Homo sapiens: one gene and its partners. The gene in region 2 interacts genetically with the main gene of each other region. Each region holds a gene or a part of one and is shown on either strand. Other genes may lie near its edges. The genes, in order: TRAPPC13, NPRL3, CHRAC1, ARL5A, MAN1B1, TRAPPC11 and HDAC8.

Region 1 (4,077 bases), on a different chromosome or scaffold from region 2:
ATTTAAATGCCTACTTTGCACTAGGTGCTAGGATATACTAGGGAAGGAGACAGACATGGACCTTGCCCTCACACAGCTTACATGTCATTACTACTATTAAACACACCAGCTCCCTAAGAAAAATAAGACTGCACTTAACTAGGAATATAGACATGTTTACCTTGAAGCTCAGTGCCTGTCATGGTAGGAGCTTGATAATGCATGGTAAACATTCCCTTCAGAGGGATTCTTCATAGCCTGAGATGGCTGAGGTTGCTTAAAATGGAAGCCCACTAATTTTTTTTTCTTTCTAACTTTTATTTTAGGTTCAAGGGGTACATGTGCAGATTTGTGATATGGGTAAATTGTGTGCCACAGGGGTTTGGTGTACAAATAGTTTTGTCACCCATGTAATCAGGATAATACCCAATAGGTAGTTTTTTAGTCCTCACCCCCTGCCACCTTCTACCCTCAAATAGGCCTCAGTGTCTATTGTTCTGTTTTTTGTGTCCATGTATACTCATTGTTTATCTCTCACTTATGAGAATATGTGGTATTTGATTTTCTGTTCCTGCATAAATTGGCTTAGGATAATGGCCTCCAGTTGCATCTACGTTGCTGCAAAGGCCATAATCTGAAAATATGAAGAAAAAAGTTGCTTTTAATACCAAGTTGGGATCACTTTATTTTTAATGGAGGATCATTTTTTACCCACCATCTCATCCCCTGCTAAACCACAGGAATCATGAAAAACTAAGCTTTATAGGACTTTTCTTTATAATAGAAATTGGAACCTATAATAAGCAAATATGTTAGCTACATGTTTGGGTGAACTCCAGGACACTAAGAAAAAAAAAAAAGGAATGTTTCAGGATTCCCTTGAGACTGTATTTTCTCTTTATTCAGATTTGTTTTCTAATGAAATGAAAAAAATAATAGGGAAGAAATAGAAAACACCAACTGGTACTAAAAGTGAACTTACCAGCCTGGGCAACATGGTGAAACTCCGTCTCTACAAAAACTACAAAAATTAACCGGGCATGGTGGCATGCGACAGTAGTCGCAGCCTCTTGGTGGGCGGGGGTAGGGGGTGGGTCTGAGGCAGGAGGTTCACTTGAGCTCAGGAGGTCAAGGCTGCAGTCAGCCATGATCGTGCCACTGTAGTCCAACCTGGGTAACAAAATGAGACCCTGTCTAGTGATTTTAGCTGTTTAAATTGGGAGAAACTGCCTCCTGTGTATCACTTTCAGGGCACCTTTTTATCTGTTTTCAGGGCACCTTTTTCTCTGTTTTCGTAGTTAAAAATAAGAGTGAAGGTTGGAAACGCCTCCCCATATTCATCTGTAGCTGATTAATACTCTTTGGAATACATTCCTACTTTGAATTCCCATGGGGTATTTCTGGTAAGGCATGACATTCCAGGTTTATGGCTCCAGGCTTATAATTAATAATTATTATAGAGAATTATTTTTCAACAGAGTGAAATCACCAGGGTTCAAATCTAGATTCTACCACTTATCTACTAATATAATCCTTTGTATGCAAATTACCCTCTGCAGGTATTGTCAATGCCCTATCTGTATATTGGGGTTAATGTAATACCAACTTAGAGAGTACTCATGAGAATTAAATGTGTTCAGCTTGTAAAATATTTAGCATAATGCCTGGCGCTAGTAAATGCTCAGTAAATGCTAGCTATACAGAGTAACTTCAGAAATTTTAAGGGTAGCATTTGTTGACTATTTCAAAAGCCAGCTGCTTAATATAGCAGGTTTTTAATTGCCTTCAGTTTCTGAAACTTACACTTTCAAAATAATGTCAGTTATTTAGGGACTTTCATGAAGTGCTAATTATTTTATTCAGGGAAGATCTGAATAGCAGAACTTACACCAAATATGGATGCTACAAAACTGAACGTAGTACATAAGAGCCTAGACCTCATGGAGTTTGGAAAGGAGTGCTATAAACAAATAAATATACTGCATGATAAATACAAGGTACCATGAGTGAAACAGAATGACCTGTTACTTTTTTTCTGAAAAAGATGACATTTAAGCTGAAACCAGAATGAGAAAGCCACTAAATTTGATATGAATGCCATAGTTGGTTAATTAGTAGTTGGGTGGTACATTTTTACATATGCTAGAACATTACTTATATTCTGAATTGACCATGTAGGTCTATAGTCTTTATAGTATTTTGGCTTTGATTTGAAGGAATTTTTTTTTTTTTGAGGCGGGGTCTTGCTCTGTTGCCCAGGCTGGAGTGCAGTGGGCGATCTCAGCTCACTGCAAGCTCCGCCTCCCGGGTTCACGCCATTCTCCTGCCTCAGCCTCTGCGAGTAGCTGGGACTACAGGCGCCCGCCACCATGCTAGGCTAATTTTTTTTATTTTTAGTAGAGACGGAGTTTCACCGTGGTCTCGATCTCCTGACCTCGTGATCCGCCCGCCTCGGCCTCCCAAAGTGCTGGGATTACAGGCATGAGCCACTGTGCCCAGCCAGATTTGAAGGAATACTTTTAATAATGAACTAGCCCTCTGTGATTCATTTTCTGAAAAATTTTACAAGTTTTTATGATTTTTTAATTTTATGTTTTTGTTTTTATTTTGATGTGGTCAAACGACAGTCTTTAGAAGTAACTGAAAAAGATTTTTAAAAAAATTATAGAGTGTTTACTCATTAGACTATAATAAATATTCAATTTCTTTTTTTTTACTTTTCTGTGGCTTAATTTTTGTCTATTTATATTTAAAGTGAATTTTTTAGTTAAATTTTATTTTCCCAGATAGCTAACCATGTCTTTGCACCTTATAATGAATAATCCTTTTGCTAATTGATTTTTTTAACTTCTAATCCTTTAATTGATTTTTTTTTGTCAAGAGGTTGTTTTTTAAAATATCTCTCCCAGCGTTTTTTTTTTTTTTTTTTTTTTTTTTGAGACGGAGTCTTGCTCTGTCGCCCAGGCTGGAGTACAGTGCCGCAATCTCGGCTCACTGCAACCTCCGCCTCCCGGCTTCATGCCATTCTCCTGCCTCAGCCTGCCGAGTAACTGGGACTACAGGCACCCGCCACCACGCCCAGCTAATTTTTTGTATTTTTAGTAGAGACGGGGTTTCACCGTGTTAGCCAGGATAGTCTCAATCTCTTGACCTCGTGATCCGCCCGCCTTGGCCTCCCAAAGTGCTGGGATTACAGGCGTGAGCCACCATGCCTGGCCACTCCCAGCAATTTCTTTATATAAGTATATCCTATCTTTTTTTTGAAAAACTAATATATCGGTATGGTCTTATATTAATAAGTCAATTAGTTGATTATGGACTTAAATATGTTATAATATGTAGTAAATTCAGTTCTTCCTCTTTTTTCTCCGTTAATTTCCTTAGCTTATTTTCATTTATTTGTTTCTCTAAATAAACTTTAGACACATTCTGTCATGTTCCAAAAATAATATCTTACTTTTGATTGGAATTATATAAACGTATATGTTTTCTGACATTTTTGTAATTTCTACACAGAATTAATATTACTTGAAGAAACACTTGGCCGGGCATGGTGGCTCATGCCTGTAATCCCAGCACTTTGGGAGGCCAAGGTAGGCAGATCACTCGAGGTCAGGAGTTAGGGACCAGCCTGGCCAACATGGTGAAACCCCGTCTCTACTAAAAATACAAAAAAAAAAAAAATAACCAGGCATGGTGGTGCATTCCTGTAATCCCAACTACTCAGGAGGCTGAGGCAGGAGAATCTCTTGAACCTGGGAGATAGAGGTTGCAGTGAGCCGAGATCGCACCACTACACTCCAGCCTGGGTGACAGAGTAAGCCTGTCTCAAAAAAAAAACAAAAAACACTTACTGAGTTTCCAAAGTTAATATTTTGTTGATATTGTTTATGGTGAAATCACTTAGAATTTTTTTAAAGCCTTATGCTCCTAATACTCTTTAAGCTTTAAAAATTATATTTTCCAGTTTTTCTATAATGAATGCATATTGTATTTACATTTAATTTTTATAATTCATAGGTTGTAAATAAATGGTGCTTATTTTGTAACATTACAATTCTTAATAAATCACTGATGTGTGATAACCTTAGGAAGTAT
Region 2 (4,077 bases):
CGGGTGGCAGCAGGTGAGGCTGGTCCCCCTCCCCACTCCAACTTCCTCCTGGGTGATCAGGGAGCCATGGCCCTAGACATGGCCACAGCACGCTCCCTGTGCTGACGCACAGGCAGAAAGGCCCTCTTCTCAGAAAGGGAGCCCCCAGCTGCCAGCCAGCTCTGCAAGGCCCGCTCACCCTCCTGGGAAGGGAGAGGGGCCAGGGGAACATCTGGATCACACCTGCACAGGCTCCCACCACACACCGGGGCCACCCAGCATCTGGCTGAGGAGCAGGACCTGAGACGTGGAGGCCCCTGTGACTGCTTCGCTGAGCAAACCCCCCACCCTGTGCTGCTGCAGCTGCCCCTCTGCCTCCTCTCTTCTTTGGCCCACTGGCCCTGGAGTTGGACCCAGCCAGCAAGTCCACCTCCACACAAGCCCAGACACTGTTTAAAAAGAGGCTGTGGGCAGGTACCCTGAGAGCAGAAAGTCCTCTCCTTGGATCTACCTGAAAGTCCACCCTGAGCACAAGAGTGGATCCACAAGAAAGCTGAGGCCAGTGACCCTGGGCTTGGGGGTGGAGCACCCCACCCCCACCCCCACCGTGAGAAGGCACGTCCTGGCCAGGCCCTCCAATGTCTCTGGGTTAGCAGGTGGGGCTGGCAGTGAGGAGCAGTGAGGAGCCTTGTGCCAGGTAGAGTCCAGTCCCCATGAGAAAGTACTGCCCAGACTCAGGCGTTGAACAGTAAGGAGTGTGAGACACATCAGTGTCCTCAGATACACATCTGTCTACTCATCTCTGGGAGGGTCAACAAGGAGCTGCTGGCCAGGGTCACCTCCTGGGAGGGGGCTGGGGAACTGGGGATGGGAATGGGGGATATATCCCAGGCAAGTAAGAAGACTTGGTCAAAAGGACTGCAAGATATCCAGACTTCACATGAATTTAAGAAATAAAACAGACGCGGGTGGATCACTTGAGCTCAGGAGTTCGAGACCAGCCTTGCCAACACAGTGAAACCTCATCTCTACTAAAGATACAAAAATTAGCCGGGTGTGGTGGCACACACCTGTAATCCCAGCTACTTGGGAGGCTGAGGCAGGAGAATCACTTGAACCTGGGAGGCGGAGGTTGCAGTGAGCCAAGATCACGCCACTGTACTTCAGCCTGGACAACAAAGCAAGTTTCTATATCAAAACAATAAAAAAAAAGCTGGGCGTAGTGGCTCATGCCTGTAATCCCAGCACTTTGAGAGGATGAGGTGGGTGGATCACCTGAGGTCAGGAGTTAGAGACCACCCTGGTCAACACGGTGAAACCCCGTCTCTACTAAAAATACAAAAAATTAGCCAGGCGTGGTGGCGGGCACCTGTAAACCCAGCTACTCGGGAGGGTGAGGCAGGAGATTGCTTGAACCCGGGAGGCAAAGGTTGCAGTGAGCCGAGATCATGCCATTGCACTCCAGCCTGACGTGCAATCAAAATTAAATAAAATCAATAAACCAAAAATAAAACAGAGGGGCTTCCCAGCACTGGAGCCCAGGCAGAACCTGGCTGACCTAGGCCCCTTGACAAGGCCTGGAGCAACCACTCAGTCATGGCCTGGAAAAGCCACTCCGTTATCTAGACCACAGGAGGCCTCTGAGAAGGGAGCACCAGCAGCTCCTCCCTAAGCACTGCCCCAAGAGCAGGGGTGCAGAGAGTGCCTTTTATTCAGCTGGTACAACCTGGCTCAGCTCCCAGAAACCAAGGGCTCTGTGAAAGACCGCACTGAGAGCTCTGTCAGGTTTAGCGTCTAACGGAGCTGAAAAGCCAGAATCGTTCTCATTCGTAATTTGAGAACGGAAAGGGTTTAACTTTAAGGACTGGTTTTGCCTAATAGATCTGGCACTTACTCAGATACTTCTGGAGACAAAGACTTGAGAACACCCAGCTCGTCTGTCTCCAACACCGTATCCTATCTGGCCCTGCTCTGAGTCTCTGCCCAGAACTCAGTGGAGGGGAGGATGGCAAAGCCACCTCAGCACAAGGCTATGACACCTGCAGCCCACAGGGGAAGCCACTGGCCCTGCCACAGATGCAGGTGCACCAGTTCATCCCACAGACCTGCAGGAGGCCTCCTATCCCCCAGCCACTCCTAGCTCCCAACCTGCCTGCCCGTTGCCCTGATCCAGGCCCACTAGGGTCCTCTCTAGGCTCTCTTGAATGAGGAGATTCTGGGGACCAGTGACCCCAGAACTCATACCCACAGACCCTGTGGCCACCTGAACCATGGCAGGGAGTGAAGACAGAAGCAGAACTCTCAGAGGGTCAGGCCTGGCCCAGTGAGAACAAAACTGCCTTTGCACCCTCATCTGTAGGCAGTCCCCAGTCCCAAAGGGGTACAAGGCAGGTCTGTAGGCCCAGAAAAGGTAAGCACTCTCCTGCTTAACTCGGTTCTAACACTAAAAACTGCCTGCCACAGCCAGGGTGGGCTCTATGGGGAGGGAACAACTGCTCAAGTGTTGGGTCACTGGCCAAGCATCTGCAGGTGGCCCGGCAGCTGACTTTTGGGTCCTGCTGGGCACGTAGCACTTGCACGGCAAGCCCCCAAAACCAAGGAGAAGCAGGTGGCAGTGCTGAGGGCTCTCAGATCAGAACCAACAGCCAGGCAGGTAGTGCCTATCCACTACACACCTGCCACTCTGGGCTCCTTGAGCTTCTGTGACTCACCTCCTGCACAGCGGGGGCCAGGGGATTCCTAAATTCTGACAAGGAGACCGGCAAGGAGAACTTGGCAAGAACGGACGGCAGGTCATGAGATGGGAACTGGTGGGAGAACTGCTCGGCCAGCGGGGAGTACCTGCAGGCAGGTGAGCATGCCAGTGAGTGCAGCAGACCCCCCCACCGTGTTCTCAACACTGGCCTCAGTGGGCAGCAGAGAAGCAAAGTGTGGCAGGTGGGTCAGGACAGTGCGATGAGGGCAGAACGGTATGAGGCCAGGCAGGCCTCCAGGTGGACAGAGCCTGGGCACTTCCCCTTGAGCAGCAGCAGGAGCCATGGGCACAGTTCATCCTGCATCTCACCTCTGATCCCTCAAGGTGGATTAGAAGAGCCAGCCTGGAGGAGGGGGCCAGGCATATGGGGGACACAGGAGAGCCACAGAGCACAGAGCCAGACCAGAATTGGGACCTGGGTATGCTAGTGGCCAGGAGTTAGGCTGAAGTGAGAGCCTGGCCTTGGGGCTTCCACAGCCTTTGGTGCCTGGCCAACACAGAGAACAGCATCTGGAGGGCCCTGCCAGCCTCACCCCTTCCCACTCGGGGCTCCAGGCTCTGGCAGCCAGCAGCACTCACAGACATACGCTGGCATTGGGAGACAGCATGTAGACGTTGTTCTCACACAGCGGGTAGATGATGATGGCCTTGCCCCAGTACACCAGATGAGCTGCAAGCTGGAAAACCTGCAGGCAAAAGGGAAGCTGCAAGGACCATGCCTGAGGCTGGCCCACCGGGAGCTGTCAGCAGCTCTCAGCCTGGGTGGCCATGGCCTACCAGCCTGGAGAAGCTGGCCCCAGCCTCATGCAGAACACACCTGGTGGCTATGGCCCGAGACTTCCTCCCTAACGTGGAATAGCACCTTCGCAACCTCTCACTAGGATGTGGGGCACAGCCAGCACACAGCACTTTCTGTGAGCAATGGTTTTTTTTTTTTTTTTTTTGGAGACAGTCTTGCTCTGTCGCCCAGGCTGGAGTGCAGTGGCACAATCTCAGCTCACTGCAACCTCTTGCCTCCCAGGTTCAAGCGATTCTCCTGCCTCAGCCTCCTGAGTAGCTGGGATTACAGGCACATGCCACCACGCCCAGCTAATTTTTGTATTTTTAGTAGAGACAGGGTTTCACCATGTTGGCCAGGATGGTCTCGATCTGACCTCGTGATCCACCCACCTTGGCCTTCCAAAGTGCTGGGATTACAGGCATGAGCCACCGCACCCGGCCACAATGGCCTTTTTGTCACTGCTCCCTGTGCTGTTTGGTGGCACTGTTTTCCCATCCTATGCTGTCTTGACTCCCACTGAAGAATGGTGGTCTCAGGCCACAAGCATGGGAATGTCTGGGGT
Region 3 (3,910 bases), on a different chromosome or scaffold from region 2:
GCAGGAGGATGGCTTGAACCTAGATAGGAGAAGTTGCAGTGAGCCAAGACTGCGCCACTGCACACCGCCCTGGGCAGCAGAGTTTGCGAGACTCCATCTCAAAAAACACAAACAAAAACCCTGTACACAAATACTTATAGGGCTTTATTAATTATAGTCATCAAGGCCAGGTGTGGTGGCTTATGCCTATAATCCCATCACTGGGAGGCCGAGGTGGGCGGATCATTTGATGTCGGGAGTTCGAGACCAGCCTGGCCAACATGGTGAAACCCCATCTCTACTAAAAGTACAAAAAAATGAGCCAAGTGTGGTGACGCCGTGCCCGTAATCCCAGCTACTCAGGAGGCTGAGACCCAAGAATCGCTTGAACCCAGGAGGCGGAAGTTGCAGTAAGCCATGATCATGCCACTGCACTCCAGCCTGGGTGACAGAGTGAGACCCTGTCAAAAAAAAAAAAAAAAAAAATTACAATCATCAAAACTAGAAACAATCTAAATGGGTAATTATCCATATACCTGGAAAATGGATAAACAGATACATCCATACAATGGAATCCTACTCAGCAATATAAAGGAATGGACTGCTGATACCTGTGACAACACGGATGAATCTCAAATGCATTCTGCTAAACAGAACAACTGCAGACTCAAATGCTACATACTGAATGATTCCATTTATATGACATTCTGGAAAAGACAGGCCACCAAACTGGTCTGTAAGCCAAATCAAGTCATTTTTTAATGGCACATAAGCTAGCAAGTATTTACATTATTAAATGGTTGGAGAAAACAGTATTTCATGACACATGAAAATTACACAAAACTCAAGTTTCAGTTTGCAGAAATAAAGCTCTATTGAAACACAGCCACCTGCATTCCTTCATCTAGTAATTACCTGGCTGCTTTCGTGCTACAACAGCTGAGTTCAGCAGCAGCAACAGAGACTATAAAAGCCCACAAAGCTTGAACTATTTACTGCATGGCCCTTTCCAGAAAAAAATTTGATGACACCTGGTATAGGGACAGAGAATAGCTTGACGGTTGCCACGGTAAAAGGTGGGGAAGGAGCTGACCACAGGGAATTTACTGGAGGGTGATATAGCTGTTAATTGTGGTGGTGGTAGTGACTTGACTGCATTTGCCAAAACTCAGAACTGTACACCAAAAAGTAGATTTTAAAATATTTTATTTTAAAATAAATGTCAATGAACAAGAGGGACAGAAAACACCAGTGGTTGCTAGGGGGCAGGAGAAGAGAGGAACAGAGGAACAGAGGGGAATGTCCTGGGTGGCAGAACTGTCCTATCGATTGGTTACAAAACCATGCATTTGTCAAAATTCACAGACTAGACACTAAAAAGGGTGATTTTACTGAATGTAAATTATAAACTTTTTCATTTTTAAAAAAGAGATAATGAAGGCCAGGCATGGTGGCTCACGCCTGTAATCCCGGCGGCACTTTGGGAGGCTGAGGCAGGTGGATCAGTTGAGGTTAGGAGTTTGAGACAAGCCTGGCCAACATGGTGAACCCCGTCTCTACTAAAAAATACAAAAATAGGTTGGGCATGGTGGCACACGCCTGTAATCCCAGCTACTCAGGAGGATGAGGCAGGAGAATCACTTGAACCTGGGAGGCGGAGGTTGCAGTGAGCTGAGACAGCGCCACCGCAATCCAGCCTGGGCAACTGAGTGAGAATCTGTCTTTAAAAAAAAAAAAAAAAAGATAATGAAATGAGAGGAGCCAAACATTTACCCTAAGTGGAAAAAAAAAATTGGGCTTATGATAGGTTTTCTCTTATAGACAGTAAAAAGAAGTGCCAGGAATTTAAAGCAAAGAACAGTAAGATGAGAGAGATCTCCAATATACAAAATGTTTCAAAATTTTTTTTTAGTACAACATGCTTATACAAGAGGTAAGACTTATTTTTGTATTTGATTTGATAATTTGACTTGGAATTTTTCTGTGGGAATAAAAGTGTTAGAATGCTTATTTTTAAATTTCTCAAAATTTGCAGGCAGTAAGCAAGGCCTTAAAGCCATAGAGGGCTCTAAAACTAGTTCCATAAAGCATTTTACTGTAAAAATATGTACAGATCTTTAATAGAAAAGTATATTTCTTTACAGTAGAAAAATATCTGAACAGTCAACTTTTCTTAAGACAAAAATTCAAATGTAACATACTACCTAAACTATAAATTTAGCTAAAACTGAATCGAGCTGTTTATAAGAACTGATTCCAAAATATACATATATGAATTTACATAACCGATATGTAGAAGCTCTTCAAAATCGACTGTAAATTGAAAAGTTAAAATTGGCCTTGCCTCTGCAGTTTGGAGCTGCAATGGCTGCCAGTATCGGCTGTTTTCTTGGTGCCTGAGCTGCAGGGTGGGCCTGTCGAGGAGGGGCTGCTGTCTGGGTCGCTTTCCCTCTGGCTGTCTGTGGCGTAGGTACATGAGGTGCTCAATCTCGGCCTGGAAAGAATACCTCGAAAGAATACCACACACTGGAACTCTGTGAAGAAGTGAAGACGCTAAAAGCGGGCAGTGCTGTGTTTACTTAGAGACAGTGGAGTGGGTCCAGGGCTGTCCTCGCCAGGCTGGTTTTTAAAGCACTTTTGGTTTAGGAGTCAGCTTCATCATGGTCACTTTCATTATCATTGTCATTCTCCTCATCTTCTTCCCTCTTTTCCTCTTTAAGCATTTTCAGGTATTTACTAGCTAAAATCTTCTTTGGTAATATATCTTAAAAACATAAAGCGTACATCAGCAATTGGTTATGGTAGACTATGAACACAGCAATGCACATTTCAAAATGTACTAGTTCCTGCTTTGACCTCTATAAGAGGTTCCAAAACAAGATGAAATTCAGGCTGCATTTCTGGGTAAAATATCAAAGAAACTAGCATTGTCTCCTAACGAACGCTATAGGCCTCTTTCCAGTCCAATGAGTACAAACCATGGTGTCTCTATGAGCTGCTTTTATGAGCAACCCTGCCCGACTACCTGAGATAGCCTAGGCTAGCCCCAGGGTAGACTTAAGCTCTAACTACGGCCATGTAGACCCACCCTGAGTTTTCCCTTCAGTGGCAGGCAGGGTCCCTGTAGAGAGTAAAGGACTGCCCAGCATACGCGGCCAACCAACATCTTGTGAATGTTGTTGGCTTCACTATTGTTCTAGGTGGACCACATGACAAACACATTCAAACAGAGAAGACTAAAAGTATCTTCCTGTGACAACTCATAGTACTTTGCGGCTTGGAAAAAGTAGCAAAAAGTCTAATTTTCCGTGAGAGCAGAAGGGAGGCAAGGGGTGGGGAAAGAGCTATTGATTACTAATCATTTTTTAACCAGAATGTTTCAAAGACTAAGTACCTGCAAGAAACTGAAAAGTTTCTGATTGCTGTGCAGTGTTTGCTAAATCACTGTAAGTCAGTACTTTCTTTTCCTTTCCACTGCCGTGTCTGTAGGAATAGGTGGCTAGGCATTGAACAAAGAGCTCCTAGAACAAAATGAAAAATGCAAATGAAAGGTGTGCTTTGAAAATGTACCACAGAAATTAATTTTTAAAATTACATTGTTGATTCCTTAATTAGGCTTAAAAGTATATTAAGACTTCAGATTCTCTTGGTTTCTCAAATTAAATTACAAGAAATCACTGGGGAGGCCAGGCGTGGTGGCTCACGCTGGTAATACTAACACTTTGGGAGGCTGAGGCAGGCGGCTCACTTGAGGTCAGGAGTTTGAGACCAGACTGGCCAACATAGTGAAACCCCATCTCTATTAAAAATACAAAAATTAGCTGGGCATGGTGGCGGGTGCCTGTAATCCCAGCCAGCGGGAGGCTGAGGCAGGCGAATCGCCTGAACCTGGGAGGTGGAGGTTGGAGATTGCAGCACTCTGGCCTGGGTG
Region 4 (4,835 bases), on a different chromosome or scaffold from region 2:
AATTGATATGCAGCCAAAGACTCAATGGCCCCTTAACAGGTTTCCAGAGCTTTTCTCTGTGTAGCTCCCTCCTTCCAGTTACTCTGCTTCACAAATTCTAGTCACCTTGATCTCTGGGAATGCTGATATGCGTCTTCAGTTCTAAGAGGTTTCCAGATTCTCATTTGGGTTCCCACTTCCTCCGTAGTTGACTGGGAATTGCTTTTAGGGATAAAGTCCAGGAAATGGTAAGACTCCACCTGTTCCTTTCTCTTTTGCAAAGAATCACAGTACTGTGATGTGTTTTTCAATATCTGAAATGTCGTTGCCTGTACTTTGTGCAGTTTTCTATTTGCTAATGGTAGGAGGATATATTCAAACCATCCTACTCTCTCATGCCTGAAGTCAGAAGTCTCTCCAATGACATTTTGCATTTCTCTGTAATCATAGATAAATTGGTCTTTAAACTCTCTGTCTCTGTCTCTCTCTCTCTCTTCTTTCTTCACTCGGAAAATAACCTGGGAGACCATTTCCTTGGGTAGATTGTAAAATATGAAGCTCCGCCATCACATAATGTGTATATGACATCCATTTCATAAGTTGACATCTGTGTGGGAGTCTGAAAAAGTCTTAGAGCTACCAAAGCATTACCTACGGTGTGCGAGAATGGAAATATTACAGAGTTAATGCAAATTGGTTATACAAACTACATTGTTCTTCTAAACAGTGTACAGAATATTAAGTAAATCCAGACATGATAATACATAAATTAATATGGATTACTATGATTTTCCTTCCCTTCATGTATGGCTCCTCTAAACTTTGGCTTTTTAACCATAAAGCCCCAAAAGAAGTCAACGAAATTACTTTTCTATATTTTGAGGTAAAATACTGGGTAGTTAGGAGAAGTGAGTTGGGAAGGTGCGGTTTATTGCTGATTTTGCTTAATTTCATTCAGCTGTTGGGGATGGGAGTGCAAAGCAGTTCAAATGGCTCCTACAAGTCTCCCAATTTTTCTTTATTTTCCTTTTTACTAAGGTTAACGAGAACAGAAAGGGATGGAGCTTTGGTGGCCACTAAAGGTTTTTAAACAGGGTAGTGACTTGATCAAAATCGTTGTTTTGGGCAATACTGACGTGAGAGTTAAGAGATTGGAGAGAAAAGAGCCCTGAAGTGCAAAAATGGCTTTAAGGTGACTATCTAGGTAAGGCCACTGACTTCAGCTGAGTGTCAGAGGGCAGCAGACTTTTCCCTCAAAGACCCACAGGGGACACAATGTCTTAAAGAGTCATGACGTGGAACTTTAAGTGTAGTGTATGTGAAGGGTTGGGGATGGACATGGGGTACTCAATTATATGTTTACATTATGGCGCAGTGGAGAAGATTCGAGGGAAATATAAATACTCGGGGACGCAACAGCAAGCAGTCGGAAGCCATCTGCCCCAACTTGCGGTCTTCACAGCCTCAGTCCCAGGGTAAAGTCCTGCGCCTTCCGCAGTCTTGGTTATGCAAATAAGCGAGGACAGGGCGGGCGCCCTTTCCTACGCTCCGCCCCTCTGGCCGCGCGCCTGCGCACTCACGTCCCTCCAGGCCCGCCCCTTCACTTCCCCCGCCCGCGTGGTCGTCGCCACCGCAGCCGCCCGAGAGGAGCTGGGGGAGGACGGTGGCCCGCGAGGCTCGTCGCAGACAACGCGGCGGCGATGTCCGCGAGCCAGGCGAGTGCCGCGGCGGCAGCGGCGGGGCCTTGCGCGCGGCAGGGCGGCCTGGGCTTCGGCCTCCCTCCGGTTCCCTGGAAGCGGGCCCGCGACCAGCGCGGGAGCAGCAGCAGAGGCGGAGGCTCCAGCGCGTCTCTCTCCTCCCCCTCAGCCTGAGCCGGGGGAAGCCAGGCGGCCCGGGTGTCTGGAGGGGGGGGGTCCGCTGCCCGAGAATGGGAATTCTCTTCACTAGAATATGGAGACTGTTCAATCACCAGGGTGAGGAGCTCGGTCCGCGGGCGTACGGGTTGGGGAGAGGGTCAGCTCGGGCCGGCTAGGTGGGGGTCTCCGAATACTTCGGAATGTGGGCGGCTCGGTCGGGCGCCAGCTCAGCGCGGGGTGCAGGCTGCGCGGATACGGGCCCGGGACGGTTCGGTCCCGGCTCCCGAGCTTGGGGATGGTTCCTGACTCGCAGCCCTTTGTCTTAGGAGACCTTCCTAAGAAGTCTTTTCCGTAATAGACCCATTGCTCCGATTTCGAATGAGAGTGGTAAAGGTTTCTTGCCCTAGGTCCGACGTCCCTGAGTAGCACGGCCTGGCCTGTCTTTCAGCCCTTTCTTTGCTCACCAGTTGTGTTTGGACACCACATAGAAGTGCTGGGGTCTTCTGGAATGAAGGTTATAGATTGCTGCCCTAACCGCACCACTGAGCGACCGAGGGTTGCAGAATGCGGAAAACGGGAGGAATCGCTCGACTTGTCCATTACACCTCTGGTTTATGAGCCTGCCCTCCACTGCCACCCGTCTTTGTGTGTGTTGGGGGCAGGGGGGGTTCTTCTGCCTCCTGAATAGAGATGGACTTCTCTCCATTTGTTTTACTTATTATATCTGTGTTTAAGGTTAAGCTTAAGGTCATTTTTCTACTCGTGTGGGTTATTAGACACAGTTTTTGTTTGTTTTGCTGGGTTAAAAATGTTAAAGTGTTTCACTGAAAGTTTTAAAAACATACCATATGAAACATTTGTTAACCATAGGTAACTAGCAAGTTACTAAGTGTAAAGTGTGTTATATAGGGATGCTTAAGTTCAGCCAACTTCAGACATGGCCATGAAATACCTATCAGGCTTGTTAAAATTTGTTACAAAATGACTAAAACTGGGGAAAGAGAATACAATTTTAACCCAAAGACTGGATACTTATTAAGATACAGTGGTGTACTTTTGTTTCTTTTTAACTCAAGTTGGGTGGTTCATCATTCCGCTGTCAGGAACTTAGTTTGTGTTTTTCTGTTGTGTAAGCTGATGGTGTCACGTCCCAGTTTTCCAATAAAGACTTACGTGAATGGTGGCATCTATTATGTACACCTACTACTACCACCTCCTCCTTCATGATCTAGCTGCTCTTTTAAGAAGCTTAGGGGAAGCAAGCAGAACTAGAACTTGTGATCCCTAATGTATCTTTTACGCACACACACACACACACAGATGTGTAGGTCACGTGATACCGAAAGAAAGGGCAGTATCAATTTTTCTGATAAGAGGATTTTTCATAAAGTAGAGAAAATCAGTTCTAATCAGCACTGTCTCTGACTGGACTGGCTGTTAGTGTTGGGAGCAGGAGAGTGGGAAGCAGTCACTTGAACTCTCAGGTTTTCTGGTCTAGGTTTTCTCACCTAGAACACCAGGGATCTGTGGAGCTTCCAAATCTTGTAAACTTTATTTCTACATTGCAAATATTAAAACGTACATTGCTGTAAGACTGATGGTACTTATAGTAGATAAGATCTATTCTAGTTTTAACATCCATCATTTTGTATTATTTTTAGCAAAGCTAGTGTTTCATCTGCTGTGAGGTTTAGCAAGACTGTGAATTGAGCTCTAGTGCTGCCAGAAAAAGAGTTATCACCACTTTCTATTTTGAGTCAATGATAAAATTATTTGTTTCTGTAAGTTAAGAATAAATGAGAACTTTGCCAACAGCTCCTTGGAGTAGTAAATAATAAGGGTGTGTGCTCTGGTATCACTACAAATTGCTAATAGTAGTGTTTTTATAACCTGTATTTTGTGGTAATTTTTGACGGGACATTTATGGCAGTTTGGCGGAAATTAATAGAGAAATTAATGAAGTTAAGTTCTAGAAAATTAGATATGAATATTGTGAAAGTGTGAATAAATTATTTATTTTCTGCTAAACAGTGTGGCTGTCTTATCAATAGGGTCACTTTTCCGAATATCCACCATTTAATCTAATGCCAGATATTTGTTGGGTTTTGTTTTTGTTTTTGTTTTTTTGAGATGGAGTCTTGCTCTGTCACCAGGCTGGAGTGCAGTGGTGTGATCTTGGCCCACTGCAACCTGTGCCTCCTGGGTTCAAGCGATTCTCCTGCCTCAGCCTCCCGAGTGGCTGGACTACAGGTGCGTGCCACCACACCCAGCTAATTTTTGTATTTTTTGTAGAGATGGGGTTTCACCACGTTGGCCAGAATGGTCACCATCTCTTGACTTCGTGATCCACCCGCCTTGGGCTCCCAAAGTGCTGGGATTACAGGCCTGAGCCATGGTGCCCAGCAGGGTTGTTTTTTTTTTTTTCTGTATAGGACATATATAAGTTAGATATGTGTTGGATGCTCTTGTTTTACCTTCAGTGGATTCAGAATGCAATCTTACTTTCTTTTCATAGAAACTCTTGGAAAGTATGTTTCGGGAGATTACAGAATTTGCCATCTGATGAAACTTAAACTATGCAGTATCTCCTGTTTCTGAAACCCCTCGAGAACAGCTTTTTCAGTTAAAGCTCAGATTGAGTGCACAGTGAAAGCTATTTGTATACCGCTCGAACTAGAAAAACCAGAGGTCACATTTAGTTGATACTGAGATTCAGTAGAGTACAAACTTTATCCTAGATGCTGTCATTTAAATCATTTTATTTTATTTTATTTTATGTTTTAACAATCTTTTGAAGTAGTTATTTCCCCTGAAAAGGGAAAACTGAGGCTTAAGTGGAATGATTTTTTTTCCCCAGGCCATGCAACTGGTATATGCCAGAGCCAGGCAAGTTAAAACCCTGAAGGAATCTCTTAAAGAAGAGATTGACATCATTTTTCCCTCCCTCCTCCTCCCCCCATTAACTTTTTCAGTTGCTAATCTCTAAGTTGTCTTTAGAAC
Region 5 (4,077 bases), on a different chromosome or scaffold from region 2:
ACCCTGTCTCTAATAAAAACACAAAAATTAGCTGGGCGTGGTGGCAGGCGCCTGTAATCCCAGCTACTTGGGAGGCTGAGGCAGGAGAATCACTTGAACCTGGGAGTGGAGGTTGCAGTGAGCTGAGATCACGCCACTGCACTCCAGCCTGAGTGACAGAATGAGACTCTGTCTCAACAAACGAAAACAAAAAAAGGACAAATCGTGTGTGACTGCACTCACACGAGGAACTCCACACAATGAGGTCCAGGAAGAAAAACCTGAACAGTGTTTTTCAGGGACTGGGGAGGGACATGAAGGGTCACTGTGTGATGGGAGAGCTTCAGTTTTAAGATGAAAAGGGCTCTGGAGATGGAAGTGATAGCTGCACAACAGCATGAATGTGTGTAACACCACTGACCTGTACTCCTGCAACAGCGTGAATGTAACACCACCGACCTGCATGCCTGCAACAGCATGAATGTGCAACACCACCGACCTGCACGCCTGCAACAGCATGAATGTGTAACACTACCGACCTGCATGCCTGCAACAGCATGAATGTGTGTAACACCACTGACCTGCACGCCTGCAAGTGTGAATGTGTGTAACACCACCGACCTGCAAGCCTGCAACAGTGTGAATGTGTGTAACACCAACCTGCACACCTGCAACAGTGTGAATGTAACACCACCGACCTGCACGCCTGCAACAGCATGTGTGTAACACCACGGACCTGCACGCCTGCAACAGTGTGAATGTGTGTAACACCACCGACCTGCACGCCTGCAAGTGTGAATGTGTGTAACACCGACCTGCACGCCTGCAACAGCATGAATGTGTGTAACACCACCGACCCGCACGCCTGCAAGTGTGAATGTGTGTAACACCAACCTGCACGCCTGCAACAGCGTGAATGTAACACCACCGGCCTGCACGCCTGCAATAGCGTGAATGTGTGTACCACTGACCTGCACGCCTGCAACAGCGTTGTGTGTAACACCACCGACCTGCATGCCTGCACCAGCGTGAATGTAACACCACCGACCTGCACGCCTGCAACAGCATGAATGTAACACCACTGACCTGCACGTCTGCAACAGCGTGAAAATGTGTAACACCACCGACCTGCACGCCTGCAACAGCATGAATGTACCACCGACCTGCACGCCTGCAACAGCATGTGTGTAACACCGACCTGCACGCCTGCAACACCATGAATGTGTGTAACACCACCGACCTGCACGCCTGCAACAGTGTGAATGTGTGTACCACCGACCTGCACGCCTGCAACAGTGTGAATGTAACACCACCGACCTGCACGCCTGCAACAGCATGTGTGTAACACCACCGACCTGCACGCCTGCAAGTGTGAATGTGTGTAACACCAACCTGCACGCCTGCAACAGTGTGAATGTAACACCACCGACCTGCACGCCTGCAACAGTATGAATGTAAGACCACCGACCTGCACGCCTGCAAAAGCGTGAATGTGTGTAACACCACCGACCTGCATGCCTGCAACAGCGTGAATGTGTGTAACACCACTGACCTGCACGCCTGCAACAGCATGAATGTAACACCACCGACCTGCACGCCTGCAACAGTGTGAATGTGTGTAACACCACCGACCTGCACGCCTGCAACAGCATGAATGTGTGTAACACCACCGACCTGCACGCCTGCAAGTGTGAATGTAACACCACCGACCTGCACGCCTGCAACAGCATGAATGTGTGTAACAGCACCGACCTGCATGTCTGCAACAGTGTGAATGTGTGTAACACCACCGACCTGCACGCCAGCAACAGCGTGAATGTAACACCACCGACCTGCACGCTTGCAACAGCGTGAATGTAACAGCACCGACCTGCACATCTGCAACAGCGTGAATGTGTGTAACACCACCGACCTGCACGCCTGCAACAGCGTGAATGTGTGTAACACTGACCTGCACGCCTGCAACAGAATGAATGTGTGTAACACCACCGACCTGCACGCCTGCAACAGTGTGAATGTAACACCACCAACCTGCACGCCTGCAACAGCGTGTGTAACAGCACTGACCTGCACGTCTGCAACAGCGTGAATGTAACACCACCGACCTGCACGCCTGCAACAGCGTGAATGTGTAACACCACCGACCTGCACGCCTGCAACAGTGAATGTGTGTAACACCACCGACCTATACTCCTGCAACAGCATGAATGTGTGTACCACCACCGACCTGCACACCTGCAACAGCACGTGTAACACCACCGACCTGTACTCCTGCAACAGCAGGAATGTGTGTAACAGCACCGACCTGCACGCCTGCAACAGCGTGAATGTAACACCACCGACCTGCACGCCTGCAACAGCATGTAACACCACCGACCTGTACTCCTGCAACAGCATGTGTGTAACAGCACCAACCTGCACGCCTGCAACAGCATGAATGTGTGTAACACCACCGACCTGTACTCCTGCAACAGCATGTGTGTAACACCACTGACCTGTACGCCTGCAACAGCCCAAATGTGTGTAACACCACCGACCTGCACGCCTGCAACAGTGTGAATGTGTGTAACACCACCGACCTGCACGCCTGCAACAGCGTGAATGTAACACCACCGACCACGCCTGGAAATGGTTAAGGTGGTGCGTTTTGTGTGTTTTATCACAGTAAAAAACCTGAAAACACACATGCACATACACACACACACACAGTACCTGCTGTGATGAGCAAAAGGTAGCTCCAGGGGAGGCGCATCCAGCCAGAAAGCCTGCCCCCTTACCTGAAACTTCTTATCCCCTGTGAGACGGGAGAGCTCCCGGAACTCCAGCTGAATGCTGGTCACCTCGGCCACAGTGCTGTCGGAGGTCCACCGTGGCGGGTGGGCAACTCCAGTACCGATGTTCACATCCGAGTAAGGAATCTTGGATGGTGTTCTGAAGGCAGGCATTAGCCGATTTCCAAAATCCTCCTGGTATATGAGCAGAGTAGAGAACCAACGTTCAGGTCACCCAGAGGCCTCGTCTACACCCTTTCATGCAGTTCAGTGGAGACACTGAAGGCTCTCTGGGGTCAACACAGCAGCAAGGAAACGGGCATCACTCTGCACTGAGTGAATGTCTCTACAAGGCCAGTGGTGATCAAAGTGGCTTCATCAGCTCACGAATATGAGCTCAGAAACAGACTCCAGTGCATTTGAAGAGGAAACAGGAAGACAGTCACGTCCCCACAAGTCCACTAAAGGGGTAACTGCTTGAATGCGAGTCCACCATCTCCCTGCAGGACACCCCAAGACACTTACAGCTTTCCTCAGGAAGAGGCTGTCCCCAGACAGGTGGTAGGCACTCAGGAGCCCCCCCAGGATGCGGATCGTGCTCTCAAACAGGTTGACGTCCACGTCCTTTTCAAAGTGTAACTTCTTCGACACCCACTTCCTGGCTTCCTCAAATTCTATGACATAAAACAGTAAAGGATGCAGAGACAAATGGATGGCTCCAACGTTTTCCTATTATCTATCCATCTTCAAAATACATTTGGCTGGGCGTGGTGGCTCATGCCTGTAATCCCAGCACTTTGGGAGGCTGAGGCAAGTGGATTGCTTGAGCCCAGGAGTTAGAGACCAGCCTGGACAACATGGGAAAACCCCATCTCTACTAAAAACACAAAAATTAGCTGAGTATGGTGGCGCATGCCTGTGGTCCCAACTACTGGGGAGGGTGAGGCATGAGAATAGCTTGAACCCGGGAGGCGAAGGCTGCAGTGAACTGAGATCGTGCCACTGCACTCCAGCCTGGGCCACACCACTAGACTCTGTCTCCAAAAAACCCACGTTTGAAACCAGGAGGCCAAGGTTGCAATGAGCCGAGATTGCGCCATTGCACTCCAGCCCAGGAGACAGTGAAAGACTCCATCTCAAAAACAAAAAAACAAAAACAAAAAACCAAACCCATGTCTGGGGCGTTATCGTTCCCCTGCAGGGCTTCAATATCACCTCCTATCTCAAGGGGGTAAATCTTGAAGTCGTCAACATTTGTTAATAAAACGGAGTCAGCAGTGCAGTTGCTATGGCCACCAATGGGTCACAACCAAAGGCTACGACCCAA
Region 6 (4,077 bases), on a different chromosome or scaffold from region 2:
CCCCATAACTGAATGCATAAAACGATGATGCATGTCTAATGATGTCAAGGGTCTCAAATACTTTGCTAAAGAAAAAAAAAAAAAAAAAAGTAGCCCATTTCCAGGTAAATTCTACTTATATTCTTCACCATTCCAGCTTCTGTTCTTGTAAAACTGCTCAAATAAAATATTATCTAAAATCCAATAGGCTTTGTTTATTTCAAAGACATATTGCTGTGATGCATTTCACCTCACTTGTAGATGAAGTACAAAGCAGAGAACAATTCTTAAACAGAAGCTTCACAGCAGCCACTTGAGTCTGGGCACTGAGTGCCACAGAGTGGGAAGAGGATGCTGTAGATTTGAGTGTTAGCCCTGAGGGATGCAGTTGAAACCTCACATTCCTTCCAAATCAGCTGTGCTGGCTCAGACTACTCCACTTCATGGTGATCCAATGTCTACCTCCAGCAAGGAAAGATGAGGTCAATAAGGAAGTCTGACACAAAATAACATGGGGACTCAGCCAAAAGCTGGGAATAGAGAAATGAAAAGCAGCTTGAATTCGAGCATTAAGAGAAAAGAGGGCTTGTGCTGGGCTCCCTGCCTTCTTGACACAAACATGACACTAAAGAAAAATAATCATGTAGGCCTGGCACGGTGGCTCACGCCTGTAATCCCAGCACTTTGGGAGGCCAAGGTGGGCAGATCACGAGGTCAGGAGATCGAGACCATCCTGGCTAACACGGTGAAACCCCGTCTCTACTAAAAATACAGAAAATTAGCTGGACGTGGTGGCGGGCGCCTGTAGTCCCAGCCACTCGGGAGGCTGAAGCAGGAGAATGGCACGAACCCAGGAGGCGGAGCTTGCAGTGAGCCGATATCGCGCCACAGCACTCCAGCCTCGGGGACAGAGCGAGACTCCGTCTCAAAAAAAAAAAAAAAAAAAAAGAAAGAAAAGAAAAATAATCGTGTGAGGGCCAGGGCTGGGATGCTATTACTTGCACAATTTCAGAGAGCTCAGTTTCCAGGGCTGAGTATATGAAATGTTGTCGTGTGGTTCTCAAACACACACAAAAATAATCAGCCGGTGACCAAGTCCTATATTCCCAGAAACCAAAGAGGAGGGCTGCAATCTACATTTTTAATAAATACCCCAGGTTATGATGACATACTTGGTCCAGAGACTACTATGTCAGAGACACTGCTCTAGGGCAAAAGAAAAAAAAAGGATAGGGGTCAGAACTAAAAGGGTTTTATCACCTAACTTTCAAACCAACCTCATAAGATTATGATAAATAACAAATCACTACACATAAACTGCTTAAAACAGTAAACTGTTTTACTGTTTTTTTACAACTATGTTAGCTATTAGTGATACTATCATCATGATAATAATTATTATCTAAGGTAAAGTCGTCTTTACTATGTCGTTCACCTTAAAAGTCAGTTTTGAACTTAATACCTTTCTTCATTCCGCAATGAATAAACTGTGTTAGTTTATGTAAAACTCCTCAAGAATAGGGAACCTGTCTCACTTAAATTCGTATCACTAGCTTGTTGCATGGTTCCAGGTACCTATCACAAAGCAAGTGCTCAAAAAATCTGTGAAATTGAGCCACATTGCACAGACCATGGGATTCAAAAACGACATTAGTAATGATGGTGGGGAATGCAAGACCTTCCTTTTAGAGGGGACTATGTTGGGTTTTTTCCTAAAAACAAAAAAGGGAAAACCTGGGCTCATAGGATAGAAAGCTTTATAAAGTAATTATTCCTCTGGAGTTTAAAAAAAAAGAACTATTATTAAATATACATGCAGTGTATTACATGAAAATGCCTAAGGCTTTCTTTATGCACCACTGTGACCACTGTCTTGATAAACTCCACACACACAACAGAACAAAAAAGACACACACACACACATAGAGAGAGAGAAGGAAAGAACACATGCCATCACAATGCCATTACCTTGGGTCTACATTTGGGATACTCATGGTCACCTGGGAGCACCTTGAAAGAAATTGGTACTCGATCAGCTCTCCGATTTGCACAGAAGGCGTCCCAGACAGCTCGATGGACTGCATTATAAACTACATCCAGGCCCGTTAGAGTAACAAAGGCCATAGGCCGGCAACATAATTCCACAGGGAAGTCCCACTGTGTGGGGCTCATGTTTACGATGTCACAAAAAACCTGAAATACAAATGTTAATACATTCATAATTAATTTTTAAAAACTCATATTCATTTCTCCAGCCTGGGCAACAAGAGCAAAACTCTGTCTCAAAAAAAAAAAAAAAAAAACAACTCATATTCATTTCCAATATATGAATCTCTATTTAAAAATCATTACAAAAAAATAATCATTACAAGGCCAGGCATGGTGGCTCACGCATACAATCCCAACACTTTGGGAGGCCGAAGCAGGTGGATCACTGGAGGCCAGGAGTTAAAGACCAGCCTAGCCAACACAGTGAAACCTTGTCTCTACTAAAAATACAAAAAATTGGTTGGTCGTGGTGACTCACGCCTGTAATCCCAGCACTTTGGGAGGCCTAGGTGGGCAGATCACGAGGTCAGGAGATCGAGACCATCCTGGCTAACACGGTGAAACCCTGTCTCTACTAAATATCCAAAAAATTAGCCGGGCGTGGTGGTGGGCGCCTGTAGTCCCAGCTACTCAGGAGGCTGAGGCAGGAGAATGGCGTGAACCCGGGAGGTGGAGGTTGCAGTGAGCCAAGATGGCGCCACTGCACTCTAGCCTGGATGACAGAGGGAGACTCTGTCTCAAAAACAAAAAACAAAAAATTAGCTGGACATGGTGGCACACACCTGTAACCCCAACTACTTGGAGGCTGAGGCAGGAGAATCACTTGAACCCAGGAGGCGGAGGCTCCAGTGAGCCAAGATCACGGCACTCCACTCCAATCTGGGTGACAGAGTGAGACTCTGTCTCAAAAAAAATAAAATAAATAAAATAATCATTACAAAAAGGCAAAAGGCTTTGAGTATCTGCAAACTGTCAAACAAACAGAAGAGAGAAAAAGGGAAAACTTTAATTCCTGAATTAGATCTATTAAAATGTAATAACTATATGACATTTAAGAAAAAATCTTTCATGTTAAAAATGAAGTCAACTTTAAGACAAATCGGCATTTTCAGTAATGTCTCAAAATGCACACAGAACTTTGAAATTAGTAGACCAAGAAAGCAAGAAGGTGATAAAATTAAAATAGATCTACATGATCTATTTCAACTATAAAAGAAAAATATATTGAAAGAAAAATATAAAAGAAAAACAGTTGACTTACATATAATAAACTTCCCCTAATTTCTCTGTAATTGCTAATATTGAATTTCTGAATACCTAGGATATTATTAAAATAGCCTTTAATTTATGTAATTATCTAAATAGTAGCTATGTTGTCTCATTTCCCACAATATAAAATTTACTCTTTAAAGAAAAATCTGTAAGGGAAAAACTAACAATGAATGGAAACCTCTCGGAGGATGTTTCCACTGCGTCCTTTAGCTAAGAATCAGTCCATAATAAATCTAACGTATGCCCTGACTTTATAAGTATATAAAACTATGTTTATCCCGAACAAGACTGTCATTATATTTTTAATATAATCTTACTTGCAAAAGGATGTAACAACATGAGGTTCTTTTTTTTTTTTTTTTTTGAGACGGAGTATCACTCTGTCACCAGGCTGGAGTGCACTGGCCCAATATCAGCTCACTACAACCTCCACCTCCCGGGTTCAAGTGATTCCCCTGCCTCAGCCTCCCTAGTAGCTGGGACTACAGGCATGCACCACCACACCCAGCTAATTTTTTGTATTTTAGTGGACAGGGTTTCACCATGTTGGCCAGGATGGTCTTGATCTCGTGACCTCAGGCGATTGCCAGCCTTGGCCTCCCAAATGAGGTTCTTTTAAAAGATAATCTATACCAGCATATTACAGAGAATTCAGGTAAGGCACAAGTGGCTCATGCCTATAATCCCAGCACTTTTGGAGGACAAGGCCAGAGGATTGTTGAGGCCAGGAGTTCAAGACTGGCCTGGGAAACATAGTGAGATCCTGTCTCTAAAAGA
Region 7 (4,077 bases), on a different chromosome or scaffold from region 2:
CTGTTAAATAGGGAGGTTTTCAGTAAGTGTTTTTTAACATTTACCAAAATAAATGGAAGGGTACTAGAAGAGGGAGCTTTTAGGACTGGGAAATACGGTCCGAGATATTACAAAATTTTTATTTTAATGGGTAGATTTTTCACCTCTGGTGGTATAGATTTGTCTTCTTTAAGAAGAAGCAAGAATTCTTGGGTCTTGGCTATGTATTTCACTTTTGAGGCCAAACCACAGGATTTCTTCCAGCTACCTTGGTGATAGTAGTAGCCTGTATAGTCGTATTCATTCATCGTAAACTCATGGCTGTGTTCCCATTCAGCAGACATTTAAAACCACTGCTGCCTCCCTGTGGCCCAGGTCAGGGCTCCTTCAACTTGAATGTGTATATGAATCACCTTAAAATGTGTCATCTTGTTTAAAAATCATCATGTTAAAATACAAATTCTGACTCAGGTCTGAGGCAAGTCTGAAGTTCTGCATTTCTAACAAGCACCCAGGGAATGCTGATGCTCCTGGTCTATGGACCACCCTTTAAGTGGCAAGGGCTAGAGAACAGTAGTGGCAGCTGTGGGGTCAAGAAGAGGAAATGGGGAATAGGCAGCTAGAGGTTAGATGTGGTAAGGCCTCTTATTGGGTTAGCTCCCTTTATTCCCTCACTCGCTTCTATTTGTCATTTTTCGTGAGGAGTAGGTTGAGAGGTTCTGAGTGAAGTCCGGTTCCAACCATTTTGCCCCTTCTCGCCTCGCTCTCAGAGGCAGATAGGAGGGTCCAAGTCTAGAAACATTACATTTTGGGTTGCCCATTTTTTATCTGTTAATAGAATGATAGTTATCCACCAAGCATTTTTGTATGTGTTATCCTTTTATCTTCACATAAGTCCCATAAAGTTCCCCATTTTACAAATAAGAAAACTGAACTACAGAACAGTTGACTTATCTGAGGTTATAGAGCTAGTAAGTACAGAATTAGGACAGGAACCCAATTCTCTGACTCCAAATCTGACTCCAAATTCAAAATGCATGATAACATAGCTGCCTATTAAAATAAAGATATAGCTGAAAGGATTAGATAGCCCAATTCGCAACTGGTTCAAATGAAAATATCCCTGCCTACTAGTTTGTCCTGAAAGTTGTAACTCACAGGGTAAAGTCTGTCTGATACCTGATTATTTGTTTAACTTGAATATAATTACTTTTGTTTACTTACCTATAAACTCAAGGGAAAATCTATCTTCTTGCCCCTTATTAATAGAGTCACTACTGTAGATGTGAGGCAGTGAAGACCGCACAGTGCAGTGGAAGAACAGAATATGTTTATTACTCCAGCCTATTGGAACCAGAAGTTGAGACGTATTTTCTTCTCAGACTGCTGGCTTCTGTTTCTAGCTTCTGGCATACGCTGGGTCTGACTCACTGACCTCTCTTTGTTCTCTCTGTTATTATTAGGATAGTTAAGCCTAAAGTGGCCTCCATGGAGGAGATGGCCACCTTCCACACTGATGCTTATCTGCAGCATCTCCAGAAGGTCAGCCAAGAGGGCGATGATGATCATCCGGACTCCATAGAATATGGGCTAGGTAAAGTCATTACCAGGCAGTGATGGGAGATGGACAGACTAATTTTTTTTATAACTTGTATGATTTTTTTAATATTTTTCGTTAAGAAATCATGTGTTAACTGTCAATCTTAATCTTTTGGTTTAGCCACATATAACTCACTAAACAAGCAAACCATATGAGTTGAGCAAAACCACATGAAGGGTTAGATGAAAGAAAACCTTTCAGTTGCTTATGCCCTACTGGCAGTGCTCAGATCTGGTCTGGCTGTGTATATGCTGATTTAGCTGTCCTGTGACCTTATATTTTAACTGGAGTACAGATTTATGTTCTGGCTAAGTTTTTGTACCTCACCCCTCATTAAACAGCTGCATTTTTTAAAACTGTAAGTGACCTGCAGGATAGTCTAGAAAAACAGCATGGTTTAGCAGAGGAACATTGAACTGGGGGGTCAACAGAGCTGGGTCCCAAGCCTGGCTCTGTGTGACCACTGACAAGACACATCACCTCTCAGGCTTGGTTTCTCTATCTGTAGCCTGTGACTAGTTCATCAGGAGGGTTTATCCTTTCTAGCTCTAACCTTTTAAAATATTATATCCCCAACATTGGAGTTGTTTCTGTCTCAGTTGGAGCTGATATTAGCACAGTGGCTTTTTAGTAGGTTAGGTTGTTGTCACACCTCAACCTATTCCTCCTCTTTTTCCAGTTCACCTTTTAACCAGCTCTTCTGATTTTTGCCCTAAGGTTATGACTGCCCAGCCACTGAAGGGATATTTGACTATGCAGCAGCTATAGGAGGGGCTACGATCACAGCTGCCCAATGCCTGATTGACGGAATGTGCAAAGTAGCAATTAACTGGTCTGGAGGGTGGCATCATGCAAAGAAGTAAGAAAATGACCTTTCTGTTTTCTGACTCTTTCCTTGAGTCAGTTTCTCAGTTATGTAAACTCTTATGCTTATTGTATTGACATTTACAGAGAGACGTGTGTGTATGTGGCACTTTACAAGGCATTCTGAAGAAATCCAAGTGAAATAGAAAAAAGATTACCTAATATAGTGGAAAGCACACTGCTCAAAGTCAGGACACCTGGGCTCTACACCTAGTTTTTCTAACTTGGCTAACTGACTTGGACTGATTACCCTCCCTAGGCCTCAGTTTCTTCATCAATAAAATGAACAAAGGATACAACTAGACAGTCTCTAAATTCCTTTTCGGCTTTCTAGAAATTCCCCTGTCTTCGAGGGACTTACAGTCTAGAAACATTAACAAAATTAGAATAGAGAACAACATTAGTTATGGTACCAATGGAATATATGTATGAGCTGAAGAGACTTATCAGTAGAAAGAAATTAATCATGGAAGTCTTGGCAGAAGTGAATTTTAGAGCTAGTTCTTAAAAGAAGTGGCAAACAGATTTTTAAAAAGGTGGAAAATTGACGCTAATAGGTTTAAAACAAAAGGCTGAAGAATCAAGAAGAGGGCTCATGCTCCTCTAATGAAAGTAGCAACCCAGAGGTAGATGTCTCTCAAAGACAAAGGGCTTGTGAAAAGGCTCTTCCTAGGTGCTTCTTGGAGTTAGAGGAGAAGTCCTTTGGAGTGTTTGTTTGTTTATTTGTTTGTTTGTTTTTGAGACAGAGTCTCGCCCTGTCGTTCAGGCTAGAGTGCAGTTGCGCGATCTCAGCTTACTGCAACCTCCTCCTTCCCAGTTCAAGTGATTCTCCTGCCTCAGCCTCCTGAGTAGCTGGAATTACAGGCACCCGCCATCATGCCCAGCTAATTTTTGTATTTTTGTAGAGACAGGGTTTCACCACGTTGGCCAGGCTGGTCTTAAACTCCTGACCTCAGGTGATCTGCCTGCCTTGGCCTCCCAAAGTGCTGGGATTACAGGGGTGAGCCACCGCGCCTGGCCACCTTCTAGAGTTTTATGTTAACATGTCAAACTGCAGTAGTCTGTCTGAGAAGGATTGCTGGGCCCTCCTTCAGCATTTGGGACTTTGTTTGATATTTCTGTAGTACTTAATCCACATTGAAGAAGAAGGATTTTTTAAACTCTGAATTTATCGATCCTCTGTCTGAGAGAAATGAAGCCACTGTGGTAGTAACTGCCAATGCCTCACTCAGGAATCAATTGTTCATGCAATCAACCGTGACCTTAGGTGCTCTTAGGTCAAGAGAAAACAACACTTTGTTTTTCAGAATAAAACACAGCACAACTTCAGCATATGCAGGTTAAGATAATAACAGAATTTTTTCCATCAAATTGACAGATTTTGTGGCCAAGGAAGTCCTTGAAAAAGTTTACTGCTAGAATTTACTAGTTGGGCAACACAGCAAAGGAAACCAATGTTTTAGTAATGAGTCTTACATGGTTTTAAAAACAGAGACAAGCTGCCTTTTGTTAGCTTTTGCTTGCTTGCCTGCTTGCTTTTTTCTTGCTTTGTTTGTTTGTTTGTTTGTTTTTTGTTTTTTGTTTTTTAATAAAGACAATGTCTCCCTATGTTGCCCAGGCTGATCTTGAACTCC

Evidence for each region.
Region 1: changes in NPRL3 (region 2) and TRAPPC13 together harm fitness more than expected from each alone (negative genetic interaction), as found in Homo sapiens cells (one large-scale study listed by BioGRID).
Region 3: changes in NPRL3 (region 2) and CHRAC1 together harm fitness more than expected from each alone (negative genetic interaction), as found in Homo sapiens cells (one large-scale study listed by BioGRID).
Region 4: changes in NPRL3 (region 2) and ARL5A together harm fitness more than expected from each alone (negative genetic interaction), as found in Homo sapiens cells (one large-scale study listed by BioGRID).
Region 5: changes in NPRL3 (region 2) and MAN1B1 together harm fitness more than expected from each alone (negative genetic interaction), as found in Homo sapiens cells (one large-scale study listed by BioGRID).
Region 6: changes in NPRL3 (region 2) and TRAPPC11 together harm fitness less than expected from each alone (positive genetic interaction), as found in Homo sapiens cells (one large-scale study listed by BioGRID).
Region 7: changes in NPRL3 (region 2) and HDAC8 together harm fitness more than expected from each alone (negative genetic interaction), as found in Homo sapiens cells (one large-scale study listed by BioGRID).

The regions. Positions count from the first base shown.
Region 1 is NC_000005.10:65,631,088-65,635,164, forward strand, and holds part of TRAPPC13 (trafficking protein particle complex subunit 13), read left to right. Parts: intron 1-4,077.
Region 2 is NC_000016.10:89,906-93,982, forward strand, and holds part of NPRL3 (GATOR1 complex protein NPRL3), read right to left. Parts: intron 3,421-4,077; coding exon 3,314-3,420; intron 2,821-3,313; coding exon 2,691-2,820; intron 1-2,690. UniProt on the Homo sapiens protein: As a component of the GATOR1 complex functions as an inhibitor of the amino acid-sensing branch of the mTORC1 pathway.
Region 3 is NC_000008.11:140,513,959-140,517,868, reverse strand, and holds the end of CHRAC1 (chromatin accessibility complex protein 1), read right to left. Parts: intron 3,501-3,910; coding exon 3,374-3,500; intron 2,744-3,373; coding exon 2,622-2,743; 3' UTR 715-2,621; downstream 1-714. UniProt on the Homo sapiens protein: Forms a complex with DNA polymerase epsilon subunit POLE3 and binds naked DNA, which is then incorporated into chromatin, aided by the nucleosome remodeling activity of ISWI/SNF2H and ACF1.
Region 4 is NC_000002.12:151,825,248-151,830,082, reverse strand, and holds the start of ARL5A (ADP-ribosylation factor-like protein 5A), read left to right. Parts: upstream 1-1,661; 5' UTR 1,662-1,906; coding exon 1,907-1,952; intron 1,953-4,835. UniProt on the Homo sapiens protein: Lacks ADP-ribosylation enhancing activity.
Region 5 is NC_000009.12:137,100,352-137,104,428, reverse strand, and holds part of MAN1B1 (endoplasmic reticulum mannosyl-oligosaccharide 1,2-alpha-mannosidase), read right to left. Parts: intron 3,425-4,077; coding exon 3,276-3,424; intron 2,946-3,275; coding exon 2,757-2,945; intron 2,751-2,756; exon of another isoform or gene 2,673-2,750; coding exon of another isoform or gene 64-2,672; exon of another isoform or gene 1-63. Other genes in the region: uncharacterized protein LOC124902313, read right to left, coding at 219-1,653, 1,690-2,672. UniProt on the Homo sapiens protein: Involved in glycoprotein quality control targeting of misfolded glycoproteins for degradation.
Region 6 is NC_000004.12:183,661,942-183,666,018, reverse strand, and holds part of TRAPPC11 (trafficking protein particle complex subunit 11), read right to left. Parts: intron 2,173-4,077; 5' UTR 2,152-2,172; coding exon 1,948-2,151; intron 1-1,947. UniProt on the Homo sapiens protein: Involved in endoplasmic reticulum to Golgi apparatus trafficking at a very early stage.
Region 7 is NC_000023.11:72,566,250-72,570,326, reverse strand, and holds part of HDAC8 (histone deacetylase 8), read left to right. Parts: intron 1-1,442; coding exon 1,443-1,573; intron 1,574-2,296; coding exon 2,297-2,438; coding exon of another isoform or gene 2,439-2,442; exon of another isoform or gene 2,443-2,530; coding exon of another isoform or gene 2,531-2,570; exon of another isoform or gene 2,571-2,745; intron 2,746-4,077. UniProt on the Homo sapiens protein: Histone deacetylase that catalyzes the deacetylation of lysine residues on the N-terminal part of the core histones (H2A, H2B, H3 and H4).